Homo sapiens: one gene and its partner. Changing the gene in region 1 together with any one later gene gives a genetic interaction. Each region holds a gene or a part of one and is shown in the gene's direction. Other genes may lie near its edges. The genes, in order: VPS4A and RINT1.

Region 1 (3,158 bases):
CGGGATGTTCGGTTTTTTTTTTCCCAGCTCCTGGTCCTGCTCCCCGGCTGCTCAGGTGACACAGTCTCTGAGGCCTCCTGGAGAGCCGAGGGCCAGTGCCATGGGGGCTGCACCCACTGTCCCCTCCCTGCAGCTCTTCTGGAGTGTGGCCATCTCAGGGTGTGTGAAAGCAGAGGACAGGGCCACTTTACTGTCTTAACCCTGCTGCGGCCTCCTCCGTCAGCACTGTGTGCTCTTGTGCGGGGTGGACACCAAATCAGTGTTTGGAAAGTGTTGGATATAAAATGACCAGGAAGACCTGTCTATTCATTCAGCAGATCTCTGCTGAGTATTTGCTGTGGGTCCTCCTGTGTGCCCGGCCCTGTCCTAAGTGCTGGGAAGATATGAGTGACCAACAGACAAAAATCCTAGACCTTCCGTTGTTGGTGGGGAGACAGTCAACACAGTCAGTGAGTGTCTCAGAGGATGGAGATGGAGCAGGGTTAGGAGAGAGGTGTCTCGGGCATGGAGGGAAGGGCAGATGGCACTGGGGTGATGCCTGAGACAGGAGGTGAAGGTGTGAGGGAATGAGCCTTGTGGACATTGGGGGAATGTTTTGCCAAGGCAGCGGACTTCAGTTGGAAAACCACTTTGTGTTAATCTATTTTCATGCTGCTGATAAAGACATACCCGAGACTGGGAAGAAAAAGAGGTTTAATTGGCCTTACAGTTCCACATGGCTAGGGAGGCCTCAGAATCATGGTAGGAGACCAAAGGCACTTCTTACATGCTGGTGGCAAGAGAAAATGAAGAAACAAAAGTGGAAACCCCTGATAAACCCATCAGATCTCGTGAGACTTCACCATCACGAGAATAGCACGGGAAAGACCAGCCCCCATGATTCAGTTACCTCCCCCTGGGTCCCTCCCACAACATGTGGGAATTCTGGGAGATAGATACAGTTCAAGTTGAAATGTGGGTGGGGGCACAGCTAAACCATATCACACTTTTAATGTCACTGTATTCCTGGTGAGACGTGACAGTGTTAATGAGGAAGACATCAAGGCATTGGGGCTACAGATTGCCAGAGTCCCATGCAAATCATGAGTCGCTCGGACCACCCAGCCCGAGTTCTGAAGGAGCCCGTCCTCCTCAGATGCTAGGGACCCACAGAGCATTCTCTTTGGGACTTCCTTAGAGACCGGAGGGGTCGAGCCCCTCTGACACTGAGGGGCAGCTGCCCCAGTCAGATCCATTTGGTTTCAGGTCTGTGGCCCCTCTCGCACCAACCCCAGCATGATGATTGATGACCTCCTGACTCCATGCTCACCAGGGGACCCAGGAGCCATGGAGATGACTTGGATGGATGTCCCTGGGGACAAACTCTTAGAGCCTGTGGTTTGCATGGTAAGTGACTTGACAGGGGAGGGAAGAGGGCTGCACAGAGCCCAGAAAATTGAGGGTTTGGGTCCAGAATAAAAACGGTCTTCTCCAGGCCAGGCATGGTAGCTCACGCCTGTAATCCCAGCACTTTGGGAGGCCAGGGTGGGCAGATCACAAGGTTAGGAGTTCGAGACCAGCCTAGCCAATATGGAGAAACCCTGTCTCTACTAAAAATACAAAAATTAGCCGGGTGTGGTGGTGTGCACTTGTAGTCCCAGCTACTCAGGAGGCTGAGGCAGAAGGATCGCTTGAAGCCGGGAGGCAGAGGTTGCAGTGAGCAGAGATTGGGCCACTGCACTCCAGCCTGGGTGACAGAGTGAGACTCCGTCTCAAAAATAAAAAATAGTCTTCTTCTATGTCCTGGGCTGTTGAGAATGGCCTTTGTAGCTCAGGGAAGCTGGCATTACACTCACTGGGGGCCCAGAATGCAGGTGGCAGCATTAGCATTTTGTACATACAGAGAAAGGCTAGATGCAGTGGTGCAGTGATAGCTCACTGCAGGCTTGACCTCACGAGCTCACACAATCTTCTGACCTCAGCCTCCTGAGTAGCAACAGGCACACACCATCATGCCCAGCTAATTTTTCCTTTTTTTTTTAGAAACGGCCTCACAGTGTTGCCCAGGCCAGTCTGAAACTGCTGGGCTCAAGTGATCCTCTCAGCGTGGCCTCCCAAAGTGCTGGGATTACAAGCATGAGCTGAGCCACCACACCTAGCCTGCATTTTATATTCTTTAGCAAGTAAAGTCAGGTCCAGATAATATGACGTCAATCCATGGGTTTGGCTTTGCGGTGCAGTGAGGCAGTGAATGTGTCAAGACTGTGACGCAGTTGCAAAGGCAGCGCCTCACCTGCATAGCCTGGCCCGTGCCATCCTGGCAAGGGTCTGCCCTTGTGGCTGGTGTTGGGGGTGTGCAGCTAAGAAGGCTCCTGGCCGGGCGCCGTGGCTCCCGCCTGTAATCCCAGCACTTCGGGAGGCCGAGGCGGGCAGATCGCCTGAGGTCAGGAGTTCAAGAGCAGCCTGGCCAACATAGTGAAACCCCGTCTCTGCTAAAAATACAAAAATCAGCCATGTGTGGTGGCACGTGCCTGTAGTCCCAGCTATTTGGGAGGCTGAGGCAGGAGAGTCACTTGAACCGAGGAGGTGGAGGTTGCGGTGAGCCGAGATCATGCCACTGCACTCCAGCCTGGGTGACAGACTCCGTCTCCAAAAAAAAAAAAAAAAAAAAAGAAAGCAAGTTCGTAAGGGGAGTTATGAGATGATGGAGCTTAGATTCTCAGACCAGGAGGAGGCCCATCTGAGCTGCCTCGAGAGGGAAGAGGGTCCCTGCCATAGGCAGATTCAAGCAGGCCTCTGGGGTGGCCTTGAAGGCAAACCTCTTCCCACCCTCAGCTGCGCCTGTTGTGTGCTGAGGGGAGGTTGGGGACCTGGAGCCTGGCTCCTGCTCAGGCACATACTGTTGCCTTCACAGTCGGACATGCTGCGGTCTCTGGCCACCACCCGGCCCACGGTGAATGCAGACGACCTCCTGAAAGTGAAGAAATTCTCAGAGGACTTTGGGCAAGAGAGTTAAAAGCTGCTTCACTTGGGCAATGGTGAAGGTGGGAGGTTGATTGGGGCAAATCCAGGCACTCCCCATGTCAACAGCCAGACAGGGCTCCAGGGCTTGTCCCAGTCAATACAGAGTTCCCTCTGCTGTCTGGCCGTCTGCCAGGGAGCCAGAAGGAAGGGCCTTG
Region 2 (4,020 bases), on another chromosome or scaffold:
TCAAGTTTAGCCTGGCTTTGTCTGCCTTTTCACTCCTGCAGGCAGGTTGTTGTGGGCCCAGTTGGAGGAAGTCATGCAGCTGAGTAGATTGATGCCAATCTATGTGTGTGGTCTGCCACCCTGGCTGAGTCTTCAGCCCCACCAGCAGTCCTTCCATGGGAACGTCAGCTCCTCTGCTACTCCCCTCAACTGTTCTTTCAGATTCTGTTTGAGACATCTACCCAACCTGTCCATTCTGCCCTTTCCTTTTCCCTAGCAGAAAAAAATAGAAGCCTAGCATGAATTTAGTAGCATTGAATTCAGTCTGTTGAATAGTCTATCCCACAATCGACAAATTTATGTGCAGTCATTTTTAACCTCTTCATTCAGCAAAGGATCAGTCGAAGGCAGACCTTATACCCCAGGTTCTCTCTGCCACCTCAGTAAACTTGTGTCACTCTTATAATTTTACCCTGTGTTCGTCAACCAGTCCTATCCCTTCAGCATGTGCACATAGACAGGTCTTTTCCATAAAACCTTAACAAAGAAACAAAAAAACCCATGATCTTTTAGCAGGTATTAGTTCTTTCCTTTGATTGTCAGGCTTCAGAAAGTAACCTTTGTTATCTATCTCTACTTTTTGTCATTCATCTTTTACCCACTGTAATCAGGTTTGTTTCCCTAATGACCACAGAAACTTTTACTGAAGTTCCTTATTGAACCTTAAATTCAGCATGTCCAAAACTATACTGATCCATTTTTTAGAGGCTTGTCTGTCTTGGTTAGATAATGGCACCACTATTTGCCTGTCACCCAGACCTGAAGCCTAGGAGTCCTAGATTCCTTCTTATCATCCTCTCATCCTCTATCCCATCACCAAGTCATCTGAGTTCAGCCTCAACATCTCTGGTATCCATCCCATCTTTCCCACTCTTTTTTTTTTTTTTTTTTTTTTGAGTTGGAGTTTCACTCTTGTTGCCCAGGCTGGAGTGCAATGGCACAATCTTGGCTCACTGCAACCTCCACCTCCTGGGTTCGAGTGATTCTCCCGCCTCAGGCTCCCAAGTAGCTGGGATTATAGGCATGTGCCACCACGCTCGGCTAATTTTGTATTTTTGGTAGAGATGGGGTTTCTCCATGTTGGTCAGGTTGGTCTCAAACTCCCAACCTCAGGTGATCTGCCCGAAAGTGGATCTTGGCCTTCCAAAGTGCTGGGATTACAGGCGTGAGTCACTGCTCCCGGCCCATCTTTCCCACTCTTGCTGATACCATGTTAGTTTAGGCAGATTGGGAGCTTTGTAGAAATGCAGAATCTCAGTCTTACTTCAGACTTACTGTATCAGAATCTGTATTACAACAAGATCTTTAGGTGATTAATGTGCCCATTCATTAAATATAGCCTGTCTATTTTATTGCATTAATCCCACTGTTGAAATTATTTGCTTACAACACTCTTATATACCAAAGTGACCTGAAGGACGGATGCTGTGTCTTGTTTATCTGCATATTTCTAGCGCAGTGCCTGGTACAGAATAAGTATCTAATCACTGTTGATTGAAATTATTCTATAATGTTCTTTGTATTTTGCTGATGACTAATATTTGTATATGTTTTCCCACATACTATAAGAAAAATTCACTTAATAAATGCCATTTTCTTTTTTTTTTTTTTTTTGAGATGGAGTCTTCCTCTGTCGCCCAGGCTGGAGTGTGGTGGTGTGATCTCAGCTCACTGCTACCTCTGCCTTCCGGGTTTCAAGTGATTCTCCTGCCTCAGCCTCCTGAATAGCTGGGATTACAGGCATGCGCCACCATCCTCAGCTCATTTTTGTATTTGTATTTATTTTATTTTATTTTTTGAGACAGAGTCTCACTCTGTCGCCCAGGCTGGAGTGCAGTGGAGCGATCTCAGCTCACTGTAACCTCCGCCTCCTGGTTTCACCAATTCTCCTGCCTCAGCCTCTTGAGTAGCTGGGATTACAGGCTCATACTACCACACCCGGCTAGTTTTTGTATTTTTATTAGAGACGGGGTTTCACCATGTTGGCAAGTGTGGTCTCAAACTCCTTACCTCAAGTGATCCACCAGCTTCTGCCTCCCAAAGTGCTAGGATTACAGGCATGAGACACTGTGCCCGGCTGAATTTTTGTATTTTTAGTAGAGACAGGGTTTCACCATGTTGGCTAGGCTGGTCTCGAACTCCTGACCTCCAGTGACCTGCCCTCCTTGGCCTCCCAAAGTGCTGGGATTACAGGTGTGAGCCACTGCACCTGGCCACTAAATGCCCTTTCTAAAGGCATTGCCTGGATATCATCTCATCAAGTCAGTGCTTCTTAGCCTGGCCTTAATTCAGAATCACCTGGGGTATGTTGGCAAAATATAGATGCTCAGCCTGTTAGAATGAGATCTTTGTTTCCTTTTTTTTTTTTTTTTTGATATGGAGTCTCGCTCTGTCACCCAGGCTAGATGGCAGTGGCGCAGTCTCGGCCCACTGCAACCTCTGCCTCCCGGGTTTAAGAAATTCTCTGCCTCAGCCTCCCAAAGTGCTGGGATTACAGGTATGTGCCACCATGCTCAGCTAATTTTTTTGTATTTTTTAGTAGAGACAAGATTTTGCCATCTTGGCCAGGCTGGTCTTGAACTCCTGACCTTGTGATCCACCCACCTTGGCCTCCCAAAGTGCTGGGATTACAGGTGTGAGTCACCGCACCCAGCTTGCATTTTTTTTTTTCTTCTTTGAGGAGTCTTGCTCTGTCACCCAGGCTGGATGGAGTGCGGTGGTGCAGTCTCAGCTCACTGCAACCTCCTCCCGGTTCAAGTGATTCTTGCCTTGGCCTCTCTAGAGCTGGGATTACAAGGTGTGTGCCACCAAACCTGGCTAGTTTTTGTATTTTTAGTAGAGATGGGGTTTCATCATGTTGGCCAGGCTGGTCTTGAACTCCTGACCTCAAATGATCCGCCTGTCTTGGCCTCCCAAACTGCTGGGATTACAGGTGTGAGCCACCGTGCCCGGCCCTTCCTTTGCTTTGAAGGAAAATATTTAGCAGGTAGAGCATGTATTAATAAGTTTTCTCGGCCTGGCACGGTGGCTTATGCCTGTAATCCCAGCACTCTGGGAGGCTGGGGTGGGCGGATCATGAGGTCAGGAGTTCGAGATCAGCCTGACCAACGTGGTGAAACCCCGTCTCTACTAAAAATACAAAAATTAGCCGAGCGTGATGGCACGTGTCTATAATTCCTGCTATTTAGGAGGCTGAGGCAGGAGAATCACTTGACCCCGGGAGGTGGAGGTTGCAGTGAGCTGAGATCACGCCACTGCACTCCAGCCTGGGTGACAGAACGAAACTCTGTCTCAAAAAAATAAAATAAGTTTTCTCTAGCTGGATCCTCTGCTGAGCCTATGGAGGCAGACCTCTAGATGCTTACTGGAGCCAGTGAGTTAAGTCCCTTTCTCTACATGTATGTGTATATGTATGTATGCATATATTTTTTATTTTATTTTTATTTTTTTGTTTCACTTATTGTTTTCAACACAAAGGCATACTTCTTCCTGCTATTTGTGTGTATATAAAACAGCATGTTATGTTTGGATTGATTAGTACAGGATGAAGAAATCAAACCTTTTTTTGAAGGTTTTGATGGATGATTTTCAGTTCTGTTACAAAAAATGTGTATTTTGAAGGGAACGAACTAATAAAAAAGGTTACATACAGCCTGGGCAACATAGTGAGACCTTATTTCTATTTAAAGAAAAAAAAAAAAGAAAAGCCAGGTGTAGTGGTGCATATGTGTAGTCCCAACTACTGGGGAGGTTGAGGTGGGAGGATTGGTTGAGCCCAGGAAGTCCAGGCTGCAGTGAGCTATGATGGTACCACTGCACTCCAGCCTGGGCAACAGCGTGAGATCCCCTCTCAAAAAAAAAATTATGAAAATTTTATCTGATTGCTGCTGTTCTTTCTTTCTTTCTTTTTTAAAATTATGGTCAGGTACTTACAATTTCATCAGAAATTCCTAAAAGAATTCGAAGTGCCTTAAAAAATGC

What was found.
Region 2: changes in VPS4A (region 1) and RINT1 together harm fitness more than expected from each alone (negative genetic interaction), as found in Homo sapiens cells (one large-scale study listed by BioGRID).

Annotation. Positions count from the first base shown.
Region 1 is NC_000016.10:69,321,315-69,324,472, forward strand, and holds part of VPS4A (vacuolar protein sorting-associated protein 4A), read left to right. Parts: intron 1-1,245; coding exon 1,246-1,386; intron 1,387-2,893; coding exon 2,894-2,995; 3' UTR 2,996-3,158. UniProt on the Homo sapiens protein: Involved in late steps of the endosomal multivesicular bodies (MVB) pathway. Recognizes membrane-associated ESCRT-III assemblies and catalyzes their disassembly, possibly in combination with membrane fission.
Region 2 is NC_000007.14:105,538,444-105,542,463, forward strand, and holds part of RINT1 (RAD50-interacting protein 1), read left to right. Parts: intron 1-3,283; exon of another isoform or gene 3,284-3,412; intron 3,413-3,964; coding exon 3,965-4,020. UniProt on the Homo sapiens protein: Involved in regulation of membrane traffic between the Golgi and the endoplasmic reticulum (ER); the function is proposed to depend on its association in the NRZ complex which is believed to play a role in SNARE assembly at the ER.